2 separate regions of the Homo sapiens genome follow, and region 2 is linked to region 1. The links come from fine-mapping of genetic effects on gene expression. A gene starts in region 1. The other region holds a variant in brackets. All regions are shown on one strand. Distances are between the middles of the regions. Region 1 holds the start of DKC1 (dyskerin pseudouridine synthase 1). Region 2 holds the start of MPP1 (MAGUK p55 scaffold protein 1).

What was found. PIP is the estimated chance that this variant, and not a neighbour inherited with it, causes the effect. A credible set is the group of variants that fine-mapping cannot tell apart.
Region 2: its variant is the best candidate, but not a certain one, in a credible set for the expression of DKC1 in whole blood (TOPMed, PIP 0.72).

What each region holds. Positions count from the first base shown.
Region 1 is chrX:154,757,895-154,766,175 of GRCh38, reverse strand. It overlaps DKC1 (dyskerin pseudouridine synthase 1), which reads right to left and starts at 3,312. Exons shown (of 15, transcript NM_001363.5): 1 at 3,195-3,312; 2 at 1,210-1,277; 3 at 646-732; 4 at 178-269. The coding sequence starts at 3,210. RefSeq lists enhancers at 2,782-2,881, 3,632-3,691 and a silencer at 3,232-3,531.
Region 2 is chrX:154,795,719-154,813,110 of GRCh38, reverse strand. It overlaps MPP1 (MAGUK p55 scaffold protein 1), which reads left to right and starts at 7,626. Exons shown (of 12, transcript NM_002436.4): 1 at 7,626-7,839. The coding sequence starts at 7,738. RefSeq lists a silencer at 7,502-7,661. The variant T/A (reference allele first, on the strand shown) is at 8,653.

The sequences.
Region 1 (8,281 bases):
TAATGCTCCAGTGAAACAACAAATCTGAAAAGTTAAAAAGAAAAATAATTCACTGCGGGTACAGGTTATATATTCAAGACAAAGCTATTCTGGCATGCCACTGCCTTCCTGAATAGCTGATGTGAAAGCATTTTCAAAAGAAAGTAAGTTTGCACAGTGCCTCCTCCCAACACTTACCTGATATAGTCCCCAATCTCTCTCTTCAGAGGATTTGAACCACATGCAAGAGGTGTATAGTGTGTTGTCCTTACATTCAGCTTATCAAAATTCTACAAAGCAACGACACAACACAAAACAAAATACCATGTCGTGAGCACATGTAAAAAAAGAGTCAGTACCACTATGTGGCCCACAAACTGGCATAGGTCTGCAAGATGGACTAAGTACAAAAACTGAGAACTGTTGACAAACTCAGCAATTTAACATTGTGGGGACATGTGTTCTACAACAGTGTTGAGTGCACTGCCAATTTTTTAAAAACTTGGTTCTCATTTCAGATACCTTAAGGAATCCTGCTTTAAACTGTATCAGTGGGCACTTCCCAAAGTCAAGGATGCCAGCAGTAAGCATTCTCAATCAATTGTTTAACACTTGGAAATAACGTAAAAGCAGGCATTCATCTGATGCACGATTTTAACCACATACCTTTAGCAAAAGGGGCCACTGAGACGTGTCCAACTTAGCAACTTTGGATTCAGGTTTGATAAGAAATTCTTCAGCGTGTTGTATTTCCTTCGACAGGACAGAAATATAACCTATTAAACTTCCCACCCGATTTTGAACAATTCCATTACTGCCATGGAAATGTATGCCTTTTAAACAGAAAACAAGGCTTCCTATGCCTTTTCACTGGGACCTCCAAGGGAAAGAGAGAGAAGAAATGAACCAGGAGTACAGAGGGGAAGTGAAATGTCACTAAGATGGGTCCAAACATTTAAAGAGAAAGGGGGATGGCGGGTCTGTGGGTGGCATAAGGAAGACAAATTCAGAGACAGCAGTTGGTAAGGCCAGCACCATTTAGTAAGCTATGCCTGAAGGACACTTGGACTGTCTGGGGCTGTGTCATTTCAGTGCTTTTTCGAATCTACACAATGACTACCAATGCTGGCCCATTCCTTGGAAACCTTTAAAAACACTTCTTTCCTTTAGTTTGTTATTTAAGTAAACTTTCTTTTTAGTCAAAGTGAAGTCAAACACATTACTACTCACGGCTACATCTTCTTCTGGCAATGACTTCCGCTCCTTTTTCTTCTTATGTTTCTTTGGCAAAATAATTACTAAAAAAACAAACACAGGATTTGGGAATTTTCCCCAAGAATAAATGAAACAAGGGTTTAAAATAAAGACCGAAATTAGGGCAGGTAGGAAATGGATTTTAGGTCTACAATTACAGTCACATGCCACATAATGTTTTGCAAGTACAGACTGCGTATGTGATGGTGGCCCCCATAAGATTATAACAGAGCTGAAAAATTCCTATCTCCTAGTGATGTCTTGATGATCCTGACCCTGTGTAGGTCAAGGCTACTGTGTGTGCTGTGTTTGTGTCTTAGTTAACAAAAAAAAATTTTTTAAGAAAAAAATTAAAAAATTTTAAAATAGAAAACTTATAAATAAGGAGATAAGCAGAGAAAATATTTACGTACAGCTAAATAATGTGTTTGTTTTAAGCTAAGTATTATTACAACAGTCGAAGTAAAAAGTTTATAAAGTTACAGTAAGCTAAGGTTGATTTATTCTGAAGAAAAATATATTTTTATAAATTTAGTGTAGCCTAGGTGTACAGATTATAAAGTCTCCAGTAGTGTAATGTCTGAGGCCTTCACATTCAGTCACCGACTCAACCAGGGCAACTTCCAGCTCAGCAAGCTCCATTCATGGTAAGTGCCCTCCTCTACGGGTGCACCACTTATAACCTTGTGTACTATATATATATAATATACATACATATAATACATACATATATAATATACATATATACACACACATATTTATATATATATATAATTTTTTTTTTTTGAGACGGTCACACTCTTTCCCCAGGCTGGAGTGCAGTGGCAGAAACTCGGCTCACTGCAACCTCCTTCTCCAGGTTCAAGCAATTCTCCTGCCTCAGCCTCCCGAGTAGCTGGGATTACAGGCGTATACCACCACGCCCACCTAAATTTTTTGTATTTTTAGTAGAGACGGGGTTTCACCATGTTGGCCAGGCTGGTCTTGAACTCCTGACCGCAGGTGATCCGCCAGCCTGGGCTGGGATCACAGGCCTGAGCCACCGCGCCCGGCCCTGTGCTATATTTTTACTGTCCTTTTTCTGCTTAGACATGTTTAAGTACACAAACTCTCGACGCTGTGTCCCAACTGCCTACAGCATTCCGCACAATACCATGCTGTCCAGGTTTGAAGCCTAGGAGCCATACGCTACACCATATACAGCCTAGGTGTGTAGTAGCCTATGCCACCTAGGTTTGTGTAAGAGCCCTCTGATGTTCACACAATGATGAAATCGCCTAACGACCCATTTCTTAGAACGTATATCCGTAGGTAAGCGAGAAAACAAGGTGTGTAAGGCCAAATGTATGGGTCCCATGGCTGGGTAACTGACTGTAGGCTACTGCACGTGTCGGCTTCCCTTCCGGTTCACCACGTGGCTATGGCAGAGCTTAAACATCCCACAGAAGCGCTCACGCAGGGGGCCGGAAAGTTCCATAAGCGACCACTCGACTGTCCCCGCGGGCTTGTGGCCTCTAGAACTTTCTTGCAACTCGGAGCTCTATCCCTGCTCCGGGGTCCCTCCGCTCCTTTTCTTCTCGGCCCGTTTCCACTACCCTTGCTCCCCTAGTCGCATGGAGCTGTAACGGCGGCGTCCGGGCTGGCAGCAGCACAGACACTGCCACGTCCCACGCCACCGCGGGGTGGGCAGCACGGCAGATGTCTTTCGACGGCGACCCGGACCCCAGGGAGGTGAGAGGGCCGAGCCCCATCATGCCAAGTCACCGCGAGGGGCTCCCACTCTCGCGCCCTTGCCACGGAGCCAGGGCCGAGAGACAAGGCCGGCTTAAGGCCGGGCGGTGAAGAGGCCGACACGCCGGCGGGAACCAGAGGGAGGCGTGCGCGGGCCCCGATACCATCCCCCCACCCCCGTTCCCCGAGTCGCCCGGAGTTAGCACGGCCCGGAAGCCTGCAGCCCTTACCTTCCGCATCCGCCATGTTACCCTGCACCGCGTGCGTGCCGCCCGGTCCACAGCCGAGGGAACGACCGCAGACTCCCGCCGCCTTGGTCCCGTCAGGCCGCGCTGCTAGGACCCACCCACCCGCGCACTGCCCTGTGCGTGCCTTGCCGCGGGGCGGGAGGAGGCGGGGCCATCCCGGGGGCGGAATCCGAGGCGCCCGCTGGTCGTCTGCGCAATGCGATTTGCTGGCTCGGCCAGTACGGAGGGCGAGACCGCGCATGCGCTTCGAGCCTCAAGCAGCCTGGTTGGCCCAGGCTGGAAGCGCGAGTGCCGCCCGCCCCGACAGCCCGGAGTCTGTGGGCGTGGCCCCAGCTGTAGTTGCTTCACCTCCGGGTTTAGCTCCGCGCCTGCGCCTGGGCTCACGGCTGAACGCTCCGTAAACAGTACCTCTTTCTTTGCTTTCTCACACCGACCCTTTCAGGTTGCTGTTGGATCAGTCCTGATGCATAAGTGAACATGTTGAAGCTCGGAGAGGTTGAAAGGCCTTTGCTGCTTGCAGTTCCCATCCAGCTAGAGCAGATGGCCAATAGGAGTAGTGTGCGTGCCACATGTTGACTTTTAAATTTTCCAGCAGCAACATGAAAGAAGAGTAAAAAGAAAAAGGTGAAAATGATTTATAATGAATTTTTTTAACCCAGCGTATCCGAAATATTATCATTTCCACATATAGGCAAAACACAACAGTATGAATGGGGTATTTTACATTGGTTTTTTTTTTTTGTCCCCGCAAAGACTTTCCGGTGTGTGCGTTTATGCTCACAGCACACCTCAATTTGAACTCTACGACCGGGCTTCACGCCAAACAGCAGAGACAAAGCACTGGCACTAAATCTCATAGAAACAGGATGAGCCTGGGTATCATGATAGGCAGCAGGGCTGGAAGCTGGAACCAAACTGATTTCTCCCCAGGGATCTTTGGTGGTGTCTAATTGATCACAGTGTCCTGTAGTAAGCCATCATGATCTGTATAACCCCGGTAACTCTAGGTCTGGCTAAAGGCATTCTGCCTTGAATCACCACAATGGAAAATCATGGTGCCTCATCTAATTCCCAGATCTAGTCAGTCCACAGGCCAGAGCCCGTGAGGTGAGCCTGTAAAGGTGAGGCCAGGCACATGTAACGCTACAAGTGTGTACTTTCAGCCTGCCTCCTCCCTTCTCGTGGGACCCGTGGCCATTTACCAGGGGCTTGCACTAGCCCGTGTGAATCACTGGGGAAGTAGAATGCCACTTGGTCCAATGGTCAGAAGTGGAGTCAGCCCACGTCCCTTTCACTATCAGCCACCCTGTGGCTCTTTCCCCGGTTCTTGAATCCATACTTGTAATAAACACAATTGGTAGCTGGATAAATTCCCAGAGGGGCTTCCTGACTCAAGGACTGAGGGTGATAATGGAAGGAAAGAACAAAGGAAGCCTCTGGCACATTATCATAATTGAGTCCCTGGGAACTGATTTGATCATCTCACTGTACCCCAAGACATCATGCTGAGTGGACCTGATGCATAGGAAGTGGCAAATATTTCACCACAAGGTGAGAGAGAAGCCCCTTGAAAATTCAGGGAGGTGATACCTCAGTGAACTTCCTGGGCATGCAGTGGGCTGAGGCATGTTGAGACGGTCCCTCCAAAGAGAAAGACAAGTTGCCTTACTTGGAACCCTCTGCTTGCTAAAAAAGAAGCATGACACTCAGTGGGCCATTTTCTGGAGATGGCATACCCCATTAGGATGCTACACAGAGCCTTTTCCAAGCTTTAATAAGAGACTCACAGTTCAGCCCTCTGGAATTTGAAATAAACTTAAAGCTAAGACCTCCACACACAAAAAATAATAATTTGCCAGGAGGAAAAGCTCCTGGCTTGCTGTAATTATTTACTGAAACGGAATGACTGTGATACATGTGGTCTTAAGACCTGACCTGCCCATGATAAACTGGGTGTTGTCTGACCAAACCATGAGTACCATCAAGTACAATGATGCAGCCACTTTAGAAAATGGTCTGGCAATTCCTTGAAAGGTTAAACACAGAGTTACCATATGACTCACCAATTCTACTCCTAGGTATAGACCCAAGAGAATCGAAAATGGATTTTTAGATAGATGGTTGTACACATATGTTCATAGAAGAACTGTTCACAATAGCCAAAAGGTAGAAACAACCAAAATGAACAGATGAATAGATAAACAAAATGTGGTCTATTCATACAATGGAGCCGTAAAAAGGGATGAAGTACTGATCCATGCTACAACATGGATACAACATTGAAAGCATTATGCTGAGTGAAAGAAGCCATTCACCAAAGGCCACATTTTGTGTGATTCCATTTATAGGAAATATCCAGACTAGGCAAATCTAGAGACAAAAAGCAGATTAGTGGTAGCCTTGGCCTAGGAATTTAGGGGAACATGGGGAATGACTGCTAATGGGCACAGAGTTTCTTTTTGAGGTGATAAAAAAAGGTTCTAAAATTACATTTTGGTGATGGTTGCACAGGATTTCAAGAATTGTGGGATAGGATGGCCACTCATGATGGTTTGGGATCATCTAAATGACAGCCAAATTCCTCGAATTTTTGGTTTGGGTCACAGAGGGAATTTCTATAACAATGCTTAAGGAATTACTTATCTTTTACAGGCACAAGAATAAAACAACTAAAAACCAAACTTTAAAATTTTGACCCATCACCTTTCCAAATTACAAAACTCAGTGAGTTCGCAGCCTTCTCAGTTCTCTTAGTAAAGGTTGGGGCCACGATCAGAAAAGCATAGAACACTGGGATTTGAAATGGGAGTAAATTGGAGAATTGGGAGTCCCCAGAATCCCCAACTCTTACTGAGCCTCCATTGTTAAACAACCCCCACGTTTATCTGATTGCAGGTTCCCTTACTGTCTCATGAGGGAATTAGCAGGGAAGCAAAGGCACTTCCCTCCTACTCTCCCACCCCAATGTCTCCAGGCCTGTAACTAGAGTTAACCTCTACATTGCCTCAACTGAACAATTTAAGTCATGCAGCAGGAGAAAGCTTGCATATGAAAACAGTAGTAGGAGTTTGCAAACATGTACCAGGAAACAGGTAATATTTATGTAAATGATATGTGAAGGTTCTTGACCCAAAAAGAGAGAAGATCATTTTAAATCAGGCTGATTTCTTGGTATAGACGCTGGAATAGAGGTTCATGTGGAGGTGATGCCTGGACCAAGAAGCCTATCCCAGAGCTTTAACTGCAATGGACGATAGAGTTCAGGTGAGAGTGTACAAGGATTGAAGGAGGTGTTTTGCTAATAAATGCTGTAAGCTACTAGATTCCCATCCCAGATTATTTTTCACCACATTGTTTTCACCACATCTAGCCAGGTAACCAAAACAAAATTCTTGCATTTGTCTGAATGCAAGACTCATGGAAGACTTTGCTTCTAGTACCAAATCTTGTGCCACTTAGAAATGTTTTGTTTGGAAGTACAAGAAACAGACTGTTATTATTGGAAGGGTATTATAGACTGTGGGACTCAATAAAGAACAGGTTTAAAGAGTGGGGTGAGTGAACATTAAGGGTAGGCCTCAAAATTGTTTATGTCTCATCTCTCACCTTCACAGCACCACACCACACCAAGTTATACCATTAAATAAGACTTTAGTGGATGTTGGCAGAGGTAAAAACTGAAAATCACATTTAAAGAAAGGCATGTGAAACAATAGCTCTAAATATCTTTTTGTACTCTAAGAGAAAAGCCCCTAACAATGCCCTGCATGGATGCTCTTTAGTTCCCAGCCTGCTCTCCTGCCCTCAGGTCCTGTAGGGTTATACTGCTTCTAAAACGTTTCACTAGGTCATGTGTGGTAAGCACTGTTAGTTGGCTGCCTAACAGACATCCCTTTCCTCTTCTTTCTCCATAACAGAGCCCCAGTTTTGGCCAGGACAGCACTGTGCCCAGCAGCAGGGCAAGCATCACAGTCGCTCTAAGCCAGTCAGATCCTTTGTCACATCATTTACTGGCCTCTCTTGCAGTTAGGGTGGCCATGCGGCACAATTCTGGGCAACGAGTTGTAACTGGAAGTCAGCTGGAGAGGGGAGGATTGGGTAATGGCAATGAGGAGCCAGAAGTGGCCAAGTGGCTCTGTTTGCAAGTTAGTGGAGCGATTCTCATAAGTGGAAGCATGTTTTTCTTGGGTACTAGAATCTAAACCAGCCAGGTACAAAGTCATGAGGTTGAGAAGCAAAAATTCTGAAGGCAGATTATTCAGCATGTCTGTGAGATATGCCATTCCCCACCTCAACTCTGTTTTCCAGACCTCTTATATTCTGACCATGAGAAAAACTGCACCATTTAATGGTTTCTAGTTCAGCGTATGGTCCAGATCCTCACAAGAGTGTTGTGTCCCAACTAGGAACACAGCAGAATCTTCAACAGGCCATTTTATCATTGGCCAGATCAACGGCTGCCTACAGAATGTTGGAAGAGGTATGGAATTGTTTTAGCAAATAGATCACACCTGTAACCGTAGCAGCACTTGAAATAACCACCTGATTATGCTTTCAGTAATCCACAGTCGTTTAATGTCCACAGTTTAGGTTTCTACTGCTGCATAACAAACCATCCCCAAACTTAGTGCCATTAAACAGCCATTTCATTGTGCTGACAGGTTCTTCAGGTGAGAAATCAAGACAGGACACAGTGAGAATGGTTTCTCTTTGCTCTGTAATGTCTGAGGTCTTGGCTGAGATGACTTGATGGATAGGGGTGACAGGATGGCTGGAGGCTATAATCTTCTGGAAGCTTCTTCACTAACATGCCTGTTGCCTATACTAGGATGGCTGGAAGGCTGGGTTCCACTGGAACTTGAGCACCTACTACACACAGCCTCTCTTTATGGCGTGGCAGCCTTAGACTAGCTGGAGTCTGTACTTGGTGGCTCAGGACCTCCAAAGCAAGGGTTAGAGTGAAAAAGGCAAAAAGCTGCATCACCTTTTATGACTCGGCCTTGGAAGTCTCATCATGCCATTTTTGTTGCAGTCTATGGTTGAAGCAGCCACAAGCCTGCTCAGGTTCA
Region 2 (17,392 bases), 42 kb before region 1:
CTGAGACCAGAGGCTCATTTTCTTCTAAAGTGCTTTCTCCGAAAGATTTTAAAAAGAAAAGGGGAGAATATGAAAGGAAAATAAATCTCCCCAAAATCACTAAGCCAAAGGGAAAAGTCAAGCAGGGAACTGCATTGGGCAAATCTCCCTCCCATTCTATTCCTAAATAAGATAGCTATAAAGATTAATAAATAAATAAATAAATAAATAAATAAATAAATAAATAAGTAAGCTACATACCTCCCTCACAATTTGCCCACAAGGAAATTCCTTGTGAAACAAGTGGCAGGCAGGACTCAAAGTCATCCCTCTACTCACATGACACAAATGCATACCTGATTACTTCTTTTGCCCTACTGTTGCACTGAGCCAGACCAAGACATATTGACTATTCCTGTAAATTGTGTATCCAGTGAAAGGCTAATCAGAAACTCAAAAGAATTCAACCATTTGTCTCTTATCTACCCACGATCTGGAAGCTTCCTCCTCTATTTCAGTTGTCCCACCTTACTGGATGAAACCAATGTACATCTTACATATATTGATTGATGTCTCATGTCACCTTATCAAGTGTCTAAATATGCACAAATCTGTTTCTAGCCTCTCCCTTCTGGTCCATTGGTCTATTTCTGTGCCTATACCACACTCTTAATTACCATAGCTTTATTAAGGTCTTGCTATCTGCAAGACAGGTCCCCCACTTTGTTCTTCTTTAGCTAGTCCTGCTCTTTACAACTCCACACATATTTTGAAATTAGATTGTCAAGTTTCACAAAACATACCTGTTGAGATTTTTACCAGGATTGCATTGAATCTATAGGCCAATTTCAGGAGAACCTACATCTTAATAAAATTAAGCCTTCCAAACCATGAACATGTTTCTCTTTCAATTTTTAGCTCTTCTTCAATGTATGCAGATAGAATTTTATAATTCTCTCCATACAGTACCTATATATGGTTCAACTTATTCCTAGGTATTTGATCATTTTAGATGTCATAACAAAATGGTGTCTTTTAAAATTAAATTTTCTGTGTATCTTTGGTGTATAGAAATACAATTGATTTCTTTGTATGACTGTAGCTAACAACCTTAGTAATAGCATTTATTAATTTTAATAATTTATCTGTAGATTTTTAAATATTCTACAAAGACAATAATATATCCATAGATAACAACAATTTTGTTTCTTCCTTCCCAGTCTTTATACCATGATAATTTACTTTTGCCTTATTCTGCTGGATAGAACTTACAATACGACACAGAGAAAAGTGGTTATAGAGGGAGGCATCTTTGTCTTGTTCAACATGTTAAAGGAAATACATTCAGCTTTTTAAAACTATATTCGTTGTAGGTATTTTAGATGTTTTACAAATAGTTTTTTAAAATCGGTTAAAGAGGGAAGATTTTTTTTGTTTGTTTGTTTGTTTTGAGACAGAATCTCACTGTCACCCAGGCTGAAGGCTGAAGTGCAGTGGCATGATCTCAGCTCACTTCAACCTCTGCATCCTGGATTCAAGCGATTCTCTTGCCTCAGCCTCCCGAATAGCTGAGACTACAGGTGCTTGTCACCTCGCCCAGCTAATTTTTGTATTTTTCATAGAGATGGTTTTTAGCTATGTTGGCCAGGCTGTCTCGAACTCCTGACCTCGGGCAATACACCCACCTCGGCCTCCCAAAGTGCTGGGATTACAGGCATGAGCCACCGTGCCTGACTAAAGATGGTTCTTTCTATGCCTAGATTTGATAAAAGATATTTTATCATTAATGGATATTGAATTACATTGAATATTTTCCACCTACTGAGATAATATGAGTTTCTCCATGAATATGGTAAATTGGATTAATAAATTTTCTAGTGTTAACTAATCTTGAATTTCAGTATCTGAAGTTTTTGGTTCAATTTGGTCACCTATCGTTTCTGCTGGATCTCCCTCACGGGACTTTGTTTCCTTGATTGTTTAGCGATTTATCAGTCTATAAATATGTATGGAATTTAAGGTCTGGTATCAATGAGGACTCCTTCAAAAAGACATATTTTGCTCTGCCAGGCACCTTGGGGCTCTATCAGTCAAGAAAACCCTTGAAGTTAAATTATCTACTTAAGGTTTGTCAGGTCACTCAGGTAGTGCAACTTTGAGCTGCCAACCAGAGCAAGGGCCAACTTATACTTATGAATTCTCAGGGCAGGGTTTTTATTAGTCCCTTGTGGTAGATTCAGTTAGTGGTCCTACAGAAAGTAGATTAGTGGTTGCCAGGGACTAGGAATGGGGAGTGACTACTCATGGGGCTGGGGTCCCCGTGGGTGATGAATCCGTTCTGGAATTATGCTACAGTCTGGATATTTGTGTTCCCCCAAATTCCTATGTTGAAACTTAATTCTCAATGTAATGGTATTCAGAAGTGGGGCCTTTTAGAGGTGGGGCCTTTGGGATTAAAGAGGCCCACCTCTTTGCAATGCAAGCTTGTTTTCCCCCTTCCACCATGTGAGAATTCAGCAAGAGGGCACCTTCTATGAGGAACAGGCCCTCAGCAGACACAGAATCTGCTGGCATCTTAATCTTGCACTTCCAGCCTCTAGAACTGTGAGCAATAAATGCCTGTTGTTTATGAGCTATCCAGTTTGTGGTATTTTGTTATGGCAGCCCAAACAGACTAAGACCAATTAGATAGTGGTGATGGTTGCACAACTCTGTGAATATACTAAAAAGCACTGAATTGTTCACTTTAAGAGTCTTATGCTCTGCTGACTGAGCTAGCTGCACCTGTGAATTGCTCACTTTAAATGGATGAATTTCACGGTATGCAACTGTTATCTCAATTTTTTTAAAAGTACTTGTTTCATAGGATTGTCATAAGACTAAATGAAAGTATGTAAAATACACAGTGACTGTATTCAATGAACAGAAGAAAAAAAAAAGTGCACACCCTTGCCCTGGCCTCATGGTAGGTAGAGAATACTTTCTCACTCCTTGACTGTGGGCTTAGTCATGTGACTTCCTTTGGCCATGACTGTATTCAAGAATGTGTTAATATATTTTAACCAGCATTTTCAGTTGTTTTCAGCAACAGATCATCCAGGTACCTGGTCTGCCATGGTGCCAGAAATTGCCTTTTTTTTGCATTATTTCAATCTGGATTTCAAATTACCAGTTTGGTTGAATAACTTGCCATATTTTTTTTCTGTACTTTTATTTGTATTCCTTTCTATTTCTCATTTTTTCTATTGCCTGTTCATAAGTCTGTTGGTGCTTTTCATTATTTATTTTAAAGAGTTCTTTTTAAAATATTTTTATTTTTTATTTCAAAATTATTTGGGTAGAGGTGGTTTTTAGTTACATGGATAAGTTCTTTAGTGGTAATTTCTGAGATTTTGGTGCACCCATCACCTCAGCAGTGTACACTGCACCCAATGTGTAGTCTTTTGTCCCTCATCCCCCTCCCACCCTTTCCCCCGAGTCCCCAAAGTCCATAGTATAATTCTTATGCCTTTTGTCCTCATAGCTTAGCTCCCACTTATAAGTGAGAACATACAATATTTGGTTTTCCATTCCTGAGTTATTTCACTTAGAATAGTGGTCTCCAACTCCATCTGTGAGTTGCCATTATTTTGTTCCTTTTTATGGCTGAGTAGTGTTCCATGGTGTATATATACCATATTTTCTTTATCCATTTGTTGGTTGATGGGCATTTAGACTGGTTCCATATCTTTGCAATTGCAAATTGTGCTGCTATAAACATGTATGTACAAGTGTCTTTTTCAAATAATGACTTCTTTTCCTCTGGGTAGATACCCAGTAGTGGGATTGCTGGATCAAATGGTAGTTCTACTTGTAGTTCTTTAAGAAATCTCGGTACTGTTTTCCACAGTGGTTGTACTAGTTTCCATTCCCACCAGCAGTGTCAAAGTGTTCTCTTTTCACCACATTCACACCAACATTTATTCTTTTTTGATTTTTTTTTATTATGGCCATTCTTGCAGGAGTAAGGTGGCATCTCATTGTGGTTTTAATTTGCATTTCCCTGATAATTAGTGATGTTGAACAGTTTTTCGTATGTTTATTGGCCATTTGTATATTTTGAGAATTGTCTATTCATTCCTTTGCCCACTTTTTGATGGGGTTATTTTTTTCTTGCTGATTTGTTTGAGTTCCTTGTAGATTCTGGATATTAGTCCTTTGTCATCAGATGCATGGTTTGCAAATATTTTCTCTCATTCTGTGGGTTGTCTGTTTACTCTGCTGATTATTTCTTTTGCTGTGCAGAGGCTTTTCAGTTTAATCAGGTCCCACCTATTTATTTTTGTTTTTGTTGCATTTGCTTTTGGGTTCTTGGTCACGAACTCTTTGCCTAAGCCAATGTCTAGAATAGCTTTGCCAGTGTTATCTCCTAGAATTTTTATGGTTTCAGGTGTTAGATTTAAATCTTAGATCCATCTGGAGTTGATTTTTGTACAAGGCGAGGGATGAGGATCCAGTTTCAATTATCTACATGTGGCGTGCCAATTTTCCCAGCACCATTCGTTGAACAGGGTGTCCTTTCCCCATTTTATGTTTTTGTTTGTTATGTCAAAGATCAGTTGTTTGTATTTGGCTTTATTTCTGTGTTCTGTATTTTGTTCCATTGGTCTACATGCCTATTTTTATACCAGTACCACGCTGTTTTGGTAACTACGGCCTTGTAGTATAGTTTGAAGTCGGGTAATGTGACCTTAGATTGTCTATTTGTGCTGTTTTAGACTTTTTGATATGGGCATTTAATGCTATGAATCTTCCTCTTAGCACCACTTTTGCTGTATCCCAGAAGTTTTGATAAGTTGTGTCACTATTATCATTCAGCTCAAAGAAATTTTTGATTTCCATCTTGATTTCATTGTTGACCCAAATACCATTCAAGAGCAGATTATTTAATGTCCATGTATTTGTATAGCAAAAGTCCTATCCTGAGGGTCTGTTTTCTGAGGCCACCCCATTTCTGACACCTGTTTTCTTAGCCTATGTTTGGTAGAAAGCAAAGCCTGGAGCAAAACATATGTGGTAAATCTTTAGTGAAGGATGCAATCCCATGGGTGTAAGAGTGAGGGAATAAATGAAGTGAGGTAGGGAAGGATGGAAACAAAATATACTTTGGTGTGCTACTGAGTTCGCCACTGTTACTCAAGAAAACACAGCTTATCTCACAGTCTTCCTGAATGCTTCCAGAAGAGTTGTATAGAATCACACCATCTTGAAATGGTTGAGGAAAGGAATTGATCTGCCTACGGGTGTTTGTCTCATTTCTGTCAGTGGTCAAAGTTCACCCTATTAGGTGTTTGTTAGTTTCCTCACACCTCTGAGTTGTGTTACCTTGGTCCTGGTAGTCAGTAGGAAAGCCAGATCCCACACACCACAGTTCAATCCTGAATCCAAAAGTGGTAGGAGTCATCAGAGCCTCCATGGATCTGGTCAGGATGAGCTTGAGTGCAGAAGCTCCTGCTGCAGTGAGTGCAGTAGAGGTCATTTCAGAACCTAGCCCTCACTTTAGAAAAGTGAAGGAGTCAGAAGTGTCAGGAGATGTGAAAACGTCAGTGGCAGTCAGGGATTTCCATTGATCAAGTGCCTGATCGCCTGGGAAGTAGATAAGGCTGAGAAAATATGGAAGGAGTATAAATTGGAGCAAGGCCATCCATACTATGGTTTTCGTACCTGGACAAACAAGGCAACTCTAGTCCTGAATATTTTGCAGATGCACAGAGGGAGACCTGGAAGGTTACAGACCAAACTGGGAATAGTTGTTCCCTCTAGGAGCAGAATTGCTGGCTCAGAGGGTAGATGTATGTTCAACTGTAAGAGATAATGGAAACCCGTTTTCCTTACAACTGGTACCAATTTAGACTCCCACCAGCAATATTCAATAAATCATATGGATTCACATCCTCCCCAACACTTGGTACTGTTAGACTTTTAAATTTTTGACAACTGAATGGGTGAACAGTGGTATTTCATTGTAGTTTTGCTTTGCATTTTCCTGATCACTAATGATGTCGAACATCTCTTTATATGTATGTTTATTGGCCATATGCGTCTCTCTGTTGGTGAAATGCCTATTCATGTGTTTTGCCCACTTCTTTACTGGATTGTGTTTTTCTTAATAATTTGTAGTCCTTTATATATTCGCAATTGGAATTCCTTGCCACTTATCTGTATTGAAAATATTTTCTCCCAATGCACAGCTGTGTTTTTTGCTCTTTATGGTGTCTTCATAAATTAAAATTCTTAAAGTCAAAGTTACCACTATTCCATTCTATGGTCAATGGTTTGTCTACATTGTTTAGAAATCTGTATCCCAAAGTCTAAAAGTTCCTTGCCTATGTTTCCTGTCAAGAGCTTTAAGGGTATGTTTTTGACATTTAATTCCTTAATCCATCTGGAATAGATTATTATTATTTTCCATATCACATGAATGAGGATTCCAATTTCATCTTTTCCAATATAAATAACCATTTTCCAGCGTCAGTTAATAAAATGTCCCTGTTTACTTACCTAACATGCCACTTCTATCATATACCACATTTCTATACTTGCATGGTTGCGTTTCGGGGTTCTCTATTCTATGCCATTGCTCAATTAATCTATCCATGCCTCAATATCACAGTCTTAATTTCAATCTCTCCCCCCCCACCCCACCCCCCCCTCCCCCCCCGTTCGTTTAGAGTGATCTTGAGGAAGGGAACCGTCATTCACATGAGTTCGGCCTCTTGGTAGAGAAAACTGGGCAATGCAGCTCTAAACTGTTGCCCTTGGATTTTCTCCTCTTGGCTATGAGCTCCTCCTTCCCAGGAAGCTTTGAGGAAGGTCAGAATAAGATTACATGTAGTGATGAACTGCTTCTAATACTGTGAGGCTACTAGCTTGGGGTAGGGGACCAAGAGCCGTACAAGCCCATTAAATGTTTGTTTTGTTCAGAAAGCCTTCCATCGCTGTGACTGGTGTTTGAATGTCTCCAATGCGTTAGGATGCTAAGGAATCCTCCTCTAGGGTTACTAAGGAATGTTTGCTGCCTTTGCTTTCGCTGAGCCGGAAAAATTTTGTGGCATTTACAGCAGGAGATCTGCCCTAAGTAAAAACAGTTTGGTTTTGAAGGCAATAAGATGTTTCATCATCAAACAGCACACAACAATTAAATGACAGGGTGCAGCAGCACAGCAGCCTTAAAGGCATTTTCGCAATGTCCAGATCTCAAAGGGTAATGCTGCGCCCGCATCAATTTATGGGAAGAGTCTAGAGTTCACCTACATCTTTTGAACTCCACTAAGCCGGCCGATTCTGATTTCCCTTGTTGCCTCCCTGCAATCCCCACGAATTTGGCCAGGGCACCCGGGCGGCTCAGGCCCAACGGGGCGTGGGCCGTGTGCTCAACCACCCAGAAGCTGGGGGCCCCCTCCCCTTTCTTATCTTTCTGGCATTCATCTCACGCGGCCACCTACAGCTACGACTTCCTCAGGCCCTTTAAGGGCCGCTTCTCGGAGCGCAGGGAGCCGCGGAGTCCGGGGCGTGGGAGACTTCCATGGGCGGAGCGAGGGCAGGAGTGGGCGGGCCGTAGGCGGAGCTCCGTCCGCGCCCTCCCGGCGCACCGCCTGCGGGGCGGTGACTGGCCCAGCCGCACCGCGTCTCCCGCCTTCTCCGCAGCCCCGCAGGCCCCGGGCCCTGTCATTCCCAGCGCTGCCCTGTCTTGCGTTCCAGTGTTCCAGCTTCTGCGAGATGACCCTCAAGGCGAGCGAGGGCGAGAGTGGGGGCAGCATGCACACGGCGCTCTCCGACCTCTACCTGGAGCATTTGCTGCAGAAGCGTAGTCGGCCAGAGGTGAGCGGGCCCCGCTAGTCCCAAGGGCGCTGGGCCGGGGCTCGGCCATTCATCTCGGGACTTTCCCTGTCCCGGTCCCTGTCCCCGGGGGGCCTGTCCTTGCGGGTCCTGGCCATAGGTCGGAGACCGCGATAGCCGGCGGGGTGAGGACAAGGCCAGCGCGCGGCCGGGTTCGTACCGGGCTGCTGGTGCAGTGGATCCTTGCCCCCAGCAGTCCTTCCAGTTGGAAATCAGGAGAGGCAGCGGCCTGGACAGTGCGCTTATTAAGGGCAAGGAAAACTTCCTCGTGGACGGAAGTCAGAGTAACAGAAAGTCTTTAAGGAACACATCAAGGAGTAGGTCTGCCTGGTTGTTGTTGAAGTGCTTGTGTTTGGGTCAGCAGAAATGATTGTAAAAGCCAGCTTCTGGTTCTAAAGAGCTCACTCACTGTTCCTCTTCATTTAGGCAGGTCCCCTTGTGCTATGGTGCAAAGAGGGTGGCCAGTGTATATTTGCGGGTGGAACAAGGAATCCAGATTCCAGGGATGGATGGCTGGTAAATAGCTATTAACCTCCGTCCTCAAAGATGCCCTAAGGGTAGGTTGTGCTTATCTGTTACTGGCAAATCTCTCCCAAACTCGCTGGTTTACAACACTGAGCATTTTCTTGTCTCTCATATTTCGTTTTGATTGGGCCCAGCAAGGTGGTCGTCACTCAGGGTCTGTCAGGTGGGGACACGGCTCACTTACTCATTTGGAGCCATGAGCCATGAGCCAGAAAATCAACCAGCAGCCTCTCCCTGTGGCTTGGTCTTCCTCACAGCATGCTGGCCAGG[T/A]CCCAAGGGGAAAATGTCCAGAGAGAACCAGAGAGCCAGGCAGAAGCTCAGAAGTCACAGCATGAACCTCCTTCCTAGACTGCAAGGTCTTCTAGGGCAGGGCCGTGTCATACTCACTTCTTTAAGTGCCCAATAAGTGGGTCCTCAGAAATGTTTGCTAAATTAATAAATGACTGAAGAGATGGACATTTGGGATTTACAGTAACCCTCCGATTTCACAGATGAAAAAACTGAAGGTCCCTGCAACATAAGGCAAGCAGTAGAGCTGTAGACTCTTTGGGCTAAGTGGCATTAACTCAAGGAAACAAGTAATGGGCATCAGAACTGAGGCTAGATTTTGTGTCTGCTGCACCGCATTGCCTTACCCTTTATATTCCACTCGAGTGAGGCATTCACACCTGCCTGTCATTTCAAATCAGGATTGCAACAGCCTGAGTTTAAATGAGTGCAGAAATAATACAGGCATGAAAGATGCTATTGTTATACAGATGATGAGACAAAATTACAAGTTCTGTTACCTGATTCCCCATAAACTTGGACTTGTGATTTTTTTCTTCCCCACAATCAGTACTCACTTGGCTGAGCCTCAACTATTTTTAAAAAATCTATTTATTTCTGGAAGTCTTATTGAGGTACACTTAGCATACAGTAGAATTCATGAAATTTAATTGTGTAGTTTGATGACATTTGACAGATGTATATAGTCATGTAACGACAACCACAATCATGACAAAGAATAAACATTTTCAAGGTTCCAGGAAGTTCCCCTGTGACCCTTGGCAGTCAGTCACCTTCCTCCACCTGGAACATGGCAACCACTGATCTGTCACTATAGATTTGCCTTTTCTGGAATTTTATATAAATAGAATCCTACAGTATGATGTATTTTGTGTCGGGGTTCTTATGTAAACCTATGTGTTCCCTTATGGGCATGCTTGAAAGACTGTGCCTTTTTGAAAAGAGGCCCTGTCACCACCAGTGTTATGTTGTGGGCACAACCTCTGAGTAAACAGCACGTTTTGTGGGGCTGTGAGTTTATACTGTAATATTGGAGATAGTCTACCAGTTAGCTAATTTGTTTGGTTTTTACTAACGGATTTGAAGAAGATCAAATAAGAAAACTTACTGAATCCCTGAATGAAATAGTATCCAGCTGTGCCAAAGTGAGCATCTGAGGGAGACTCTTCACACGATGAAGTGTGGCTTGACTCCACAACCTGCGGATTCTTATTTCTTTAGGTTCACCTTCCCTTTGGGGCTCTTACCAGTCTTTGCTGCAGCAGCAAGCTCTGCCTTTCACTTGCTGCATGGTTTTGGGCAAGCTGCTGAAGCTCTCTGTGCCTTAGGTTTCTCTCCTTTATGAAACTGGCAAGTTTGGAAGGTTGTGGCAACATTTACATGAGATAATGCTTGACAAGGACCTTGAGCCACACTGGGACATCCAGGGTAATGACCCAGTATCTCCCTAGGAGCTGCCTGCCCAGTAGTAGCAGTCAGAAAGTTTTCCTATAATGGCAAGATTTGAAGCAGGAAAACCTGTGAGGAAGTTGTTGGCTTCAATAGAAATTATAAAATTATTTTGCTGAAAGTTTCATTTAAAGGTGTCACTTTATGGAAAAAGGCTACCGATTCAAAACAAAGTTTCACTTCCAATTATAATCCACATTTAATACTGAAAGAATATTGTCTAAAGGTAATTTTGCAATAGGTTTGAATGTAGCCTATCTCCCCTATTTAAGTATATCTCCTTCCTTGGATAAACTAATTTTTTTTTTCTTTTCAATGTGGTCTAGGCAGGTTAATGGAGAAACTAATTTTATTAGCTCTCTCTGGCCTTGTTCTTCACAGCAGTATCCATTAATGCACATAAAAGTAGTTGTAAAATTCCCAATACTGCTTTTCTCTTCGGGCCTGTTTGAAGCAACACTTTCCCCAGGACCTGAAGCAATTGGTTGAGAATCCCTGAAAATTCTCTTGGGCCTATCCCACATCAAAAAAAAATCACCTAACAGATAAGTCAGGCTCCAGGCAAATTTCCACCAAGAAAACCTGTTTCTTGGTTCTTAGGCCATCACATGCAGCATTACTCCCCGCTGGTGGTCACTGAGTGTGACGCAGTGTTGTTTGTTGCCTACTCCAGGTCTGCTGCTGGAACTAAGAGGCAAATAAGGAAGGACGCAGACATGGAAACAAATACAGTAGTGTGGTGGTGATGTGATAGAAGCAGCTGTGGAGCGCTGTGGAGCAAGGAGGGGCACCCAGCACAGTGGGCTCTTGCATTTCGCAGTACCTAGGCTGTAACTGGCAGGTGGTACCTGGGCAGAGGGAACAGCCTGTGCACGGACACCAAGGTGCATGCCGAGTGCGGCACCTTCTGCGATGGCAGGAGGTTGAGTCTACGGTGTGCATGATCACTGACTCTGCTTCTGACTAGTTATAATTTCACCTGAGAAAGAACTTTCGCTGCAGACTTGGATCTTGCTGTTTCCTTTGCAAAGGAAATGGTTCCGTTCAAGGCTTTTCTTTTCACAGAACTGATACTAGAAAGTAAAGTGTAATTTTCAAATTATTTAGTCCTCTGCCCAATTTCCCCAGTATGTGGTGTGGTCTCAGCCAGTCTGCCTTTCCTGTCCTTCACTTCCAGGAACTTCATGACTTTTTTCTGTTTTTTGTTTTTTTTTTTTTTTTTTTTTTTTTTTTGAGACAGAGTTTTGCTCTGTCACCCAGGCTGGAGTGTAGGGGTGTGGTCTTGGCTCACTGCAACCTCTGCCTCCTAGGTTCAAGCGATTCTCCTGCCTCAGTCTCCCAGCTAGCTGGGATTACAGGCGCCTGCCAACACGCCTGGCTAATTTTTGTATTTTTGATAGAGACAGGTTTTCGCCATGTTGGCCGGGCTGGTCTCGAACTCCTGATCTCAGGTGATCCGCCTGCCTCGGCCTCCCAAAGTGCTGGGATTACAGGTATGATCCAGCGCCCTGGGCCTTTCATGACTTTTTTTTCAAAACTGGAAGGGCTTAGGATACCTTGCAGATAAGAATCTGCTTTTATTGTGGCTAAGCAGATTTGAGTTTCATCATGAACGTTCTATTCTTTTCTAACTCATTTGTTCTCCCTACACAAGACACTGAAGTATAATAGAATACCAGGAACAGATATTTCAGGTTAAGATCAATTCCCTTAAATTGGAGTTTGCCAACCTGGGCACTGTTAACACTTTGGGTCTGATAATTCTGTTGTAAAAAGTAATACCTCGCCGCTAAGTTGTGACAATCAATAATGTCCTGAGACAGTGTCAAGAGGGGAGACAAAATTAGTTGATGCAGAGATTTTTCTCCTAAGCAGTGAGTTGTCTCTAACCTTTCAGTGTTGCTAAAAAAGAACTCTGGGTGTGGAGTGTAGAAAGGCAAGACTAAATAGCCATATTTCCAAAATTGGCTGGGGTAGGGGAAGTGACGCCAGAGGAGGGGAAGAGGAACTTTCGTAACATAGTCTTGCTTTTCTTTTTTTCTTTCATATGAAGAAATATACATGAACAAAACACATAATAGGTTTTCCCTCAAAAGTTATCTTCCTTGCGAGGCCTTTTCTGCTTTATTTTCCTCCTTAGCACCTGCCATCATCTCTGAATATTCTGCACAGTGCAGAGGCAGCCTTTATGTGAGGGACACAGCACCTGCATTCTCTCCATGTACCTGCACAAACTCCAAAGTCCATGCTTATAGTTTAACTTCTGGAGTCTGAGGCTTACTCATCCTTTAAGCTCAGACAGGTTTCTGAACCATTTCATGTCTTCAAATATTGACCACAGAATGGGGATGAGCATTTGATTTAACGAGTGTTGTTATTTGCACACAGCTCCGGCACTGGTTTAATGGCAGTGTGGGGACTCAGTGCCAGGTATCTGCAGCCCTGTGTTTCTGCTGTGTGGAACGGTGCTACTTGAGTTTCCTGTTGTTTTTTTTCCCCAGTGGAAGCAAAAGCCTTTGCATGTGTACTGAGAGCATGGGGTAGAAAAAGCTCGTTGGGAAGGGATCTCTAGAGACTTGGCCTTTAGGTTGATGTATGTGTTCCCAGATGGATTTAGTACCTGAGAAGCAAAGCACCTGGTTAATGTATGATTTTAAGACAGTACCTGCCAGAATATCCTGGCTCTTAGGCCTTCCTCTCTCCCTAGTTCCTGTCATTTGTGGTTAAACAGTGCTAATCTCTTTCTAATACTTCAGAATACCCTTGGCTTTCTCAGTTTCTCTTGTTTTTTCCCAAAGTGGAATAGGATACTGCCCATGCAAAGAGAGGGAATTTGCGAGCACCTGGGGCCAGGGCTTGCTGGGCAGCTGTCTGGCATCATCTCGCCTTCTTGGACTTGGCTTTCTAAGTCTCCACGTGGGAGCAGTTGGCAAAGAGCCTAACAGTAGGCTGAGCAAATATTTGTTCTTTCCTATGTTCACTGTCACTTAATCTAATTGTTTGGATTAGAAAGCCAACTTCAGTTGCCCCTGCTCTATTCACCCCCGCCACCGCCCGCCCCCCGCCAAGTTTGTTTTTCATCTCTTTTTAAATTCCAGCTTCCTTTGAGCAACTGCCTCTGCCCTTTGAACCCTGCTGCAGATGTTTCCTCTGAAGGGGCTTTCAGAGCGGCAGGCATTGCCACTCCAGCACTTTGTCTGATTAAAGGCCAGAGGCTGCAGAACAAAGGCCAGACATGGAGTCCTGGGTGAGTGTTTATTCCCTGGCTCCTCCTGAATCCCAGCAGTCATCCTTAACAGAGCCACTTCCGCCCTGCCTTGTCACTGGTCAGGGGCAGGCCTGCCATAGCTCTGTGGCCTCCTATATCCACTACAGATGATGGTGGCTGCTTTGAGAGGATGATGTGGAGGTTGTGAACTGAACTCTGAGAAATAGAATCTAGTACCTTTGACCTTTATTATTTGTTCAGCATTACTCATGTCACTGACAGTATATGTCTGCATATCTTTTCTCCTATGATGTGTCAGTAATGAGGAGACATGGGGACTAGTTGAAGGAGTTCTGTAAGATGAGGTCACAGAGAGCTGACCCTCCCTTTCTGAGAGTCTCATGAAGACAGGGTGGCTCAGGGACAAGTTCACGGTGGAGAAAATTGTGCTTTGCTTTTGGAAAACTTACTGTTGCAAGTGTGTACTTTAGTTACCACGTTGGAAGTTTCCGTTTTTCTTAGTCATCATTTGCAACTTCTGGGTAAGCGTGATAGTGACTCTTAGTCATCGTAAAGAGGAACGTCTTGTTGGATAAGCACATCTGAAAGACCAACCTTTGGGATGGCAACTCTTGAACTTTTCCAGCTGGAATGGTTCTGCCTCTAGTAAGCTTTGCTGAGTCTTTAATTTAAAGGCTGACATGTAAAAAGCAATCACTGTAATAAAGCTGGATAAGAAGAATATGACATAGCTAGGCATGGTGGCTCACACCTGTAATCCCAGCACTTTGGGAGGCCGAGGCGGGCGGATCACCTGAGGTTGGGAGTTCAAGACCAGCCTGGCCAATGCGGAGAAACCCCATCTCTACAAAAAATACAAAATTAGCCGGGCGTGGTGGTGCATGCCTGTAATCTCAGCTACTCGGGAGGCTGAGGCAGGAGAATCGCTTGAATCCAGGAGGCGGAAGTTGTGGTGAGCCGAGATCGTGCCATTGCACTCCAGCCTGGGCAATAAGAGTGAAAGTCTGTCTCAAAAAAATAAAATAAATAAAATAAAATAAAATTCCTCTAGCCACCACCACAATGAAGATAGAGAACTGTTCCATCCCCACAAAGGCCTCTCTCCTGCTGTCGCTTTATAGTCACACTTGTCTTCCTCCCTACCCCATCCCCGCAACTCCTTGCAGTCACTACTCTGTTCAATGTCTCTATGATTTTGTCATTTTAGGAATGTTATATAAGTGGAATCATATAGTATGTGATGTTTTGAAATAGATTAGCTTTCTTTCAGTCAGGATAATGCCTTTGAGCTGGATCCCAAGTTGTTTTAGTATCAATAGTGTTTTTTGTTTTAATTGCTGAGAAGTGTTCCATGGTATGGATGTACCACGCTTTAACTGTTCACCTGTATTTTGGTTCTTTATAGATTTTGGCTGTTATAAATAAAGCTGTTATGAGCATTCATGTACAGGCTTTTGAGTGAACATAAATTTCCATTTCTCTAGGTGAATATCCAGGAGTGTCATCCCTGGGTTTTATGGTAGTTGTGTGTTTGGTTTTTTAATAAAGTGTTCAACTATTTTCTATGGAAGCCATATCACTTACATTCCCACCAGCAATGTATGAGATGCCCAATTTTCCCTCAGCTTCACCAGTTATGAGTATTGTCACTATTTTTTTATTTCAGCTATTCTGATAGATGTGTAGTGATATATCATTGTTGTTTTAATTTGCATTTCTCCCTGATGGCTAATGATGTTGAATATCTTTTTATATCCTCATTTGCCATCTTTATATATCCTCTTTGGTGAAATATCTGTTCATGTTTTTTGCCCATTTTCTAATTAGATTGTTCGTTTTTACTGTTGAGTATTGAGCACTCTCTTTTTATATTCTATATACCAGTCTTTTATTGGATATGTGGTTTGTAAATGTTTCTCCCGGTCTGTAGCTTGTATTTTCACAATCTTCATGTGGGCTTTCACAGAACAAGAGTTTTTCATTTTGATGAGGTCCAATTTACCAATTTTTCCTTTAATGGATTCTGCTTTTGATGTCATGTATAGGAACTTTTTGCCTAGCTCTAGATCCTGACAAGTTTCTTCTATTTTTTTCAAATATATTTTCTAGTTTTGCACTTTACATGTAAGTCCATATCCATTTTAGAAGGTAAGGTTCAGGTCAGCATTTCCCTTTTTGGTGATGAGTTTCCAATTGCTGCAGCACCATTGAGTTGCTTTTGCATCTTTGTTAAAAATCAACTGGGCATATCTCTGTGGGTCTGTTTCTGGGTTCCCTATCCTGTTCCCTTGATCTGCATGTCTATACCACATAGTCTTTACTGAGACTATACTACAGTAAGTTTTGAAACTGTGCAGACTGAGTCTTCCTACTCTCTTGTTTTTCAAAATTATTTTAGCTTTTCATGGGTCTGTACCTTTCCATCATGTATACGTGCTTTTAGTGTAACCTACATGGACCAAGTGAGTGAAAGCACTCGTGTATGAGAAAAATAACACCCCAGATATAGGGTGATCGGTAGCCAACACTGGCTTCTGGCTGAGGCATCAGTAAGGAATGTGAGAGCTGGGGCCACCTGGAGAGCGATGCCAGATCTTCTGATACTTTAAAAAGAAGTTGGAGTCCCCTGATTTTTACTAAACAAAACAGAGACATGTGGTCGAAATAAAACAGTTTGCAACTTCTGCTTTGGAGATTTTTTCTTTTCTTTTTCCAGAGATAGAGTCTCGCTCTGTTGCCCAGGCTAGAGTACAGTGGTGCTATCATAGCTCACTGCAGCCTTGACCTCCTGGGCTCAAATGATCCTCCTGCCTCAGCCTCACGAGTAGCTAGGACTACAGGCACATGCCACCACACCTGGCTTGGAACTTTATGTAATGCATTCACTCCTTCATTTATTGTCCAACCAATGCAGATCCTACTTCTTGACTCCCCACTTTGTAACAGAACAAGATTACAGGCCTCTTCCTTTCGATTTTTCTCCCCTTTTTACCTGCCAACTTCCTATCATGGACATGTGTACCTTAATATTGTCATGGTGCTGATATTTACAGTCTGTTATTTGTTTCATGATTTGTTTCTAAGTGAGTTCTAAAAAGTAAAAATCAATAAGTGGTTTTTAGATTATTATAACTGGTTGCCAATCCAACATCCCACTTCTCACTTACATATCCCTGATCTTGTTTGGGATGGCAAGATGCTCAACTAAACTAATCTTCCCAGCCTCTTTGGCTGGTGCCTCCTGTATGCACATTCTAGGCTCTAGCTGTCTCAACTCTCCTTGGTCATTCCTCCATCTGCTTTCTGTCTTCTGGAAAGCTATTGAAATCTTGGCCGGGCATGGTGGCTCATGCCTGTAATCCCAGCAGATTTGGGAGGCCGAGGCAGGTGGATCACTTGCGGTCAGGAGTTCCAGACCAGTCTGGCCAACATGGTAAAACCCCGTCTCTACTAAAAATACAAAAATTAGCCAGGTGTGGTGGCGCTTGCCTGTAATCCCAGCTACTCGGGAGGCTGAGGCAGGAGAATCGCTTGAACCCAGGAGGCGGAGGTTGCAGTGAGCCGAGATCACGCCACTGCACTCTAGACTGGGTGACAGAGTGAGACTCTTTCTCAAAAAAAGAAAAAAGAAAAGAAAAGAAAAGGAAAAAAAACAAAGAGAAAGAAATCCTTCAACCCTGATGACTTTTTGTGGGTTTCTATTTCCCTCCTCCCGTTTACTCTTACTTAAACAGGGTCAAGGTTGAGGCAGGACAAGATCCACACAAGTACTTGAACCTGAGTCCCAATCACTTTGGAAAATTCTTTTACTAATTTATTTTATTAAAGTAACACAAGCACATAATACATAATTTAAAAGGTATAACTTGATACACAGTGAAAACAATTTCCTTCTCACCCCATCTTATAGCCACCCAGTTCCTCTCCCTAGAAGCAACCACTGTTTCTTATGTCTCCTTCCAGACATAGTTTATGTATTTTCATTTATTTTATTTTTTGAGACAGGGTCTCACTCTGTCACCCAGGCTAGAGTGCAGTGGTGTA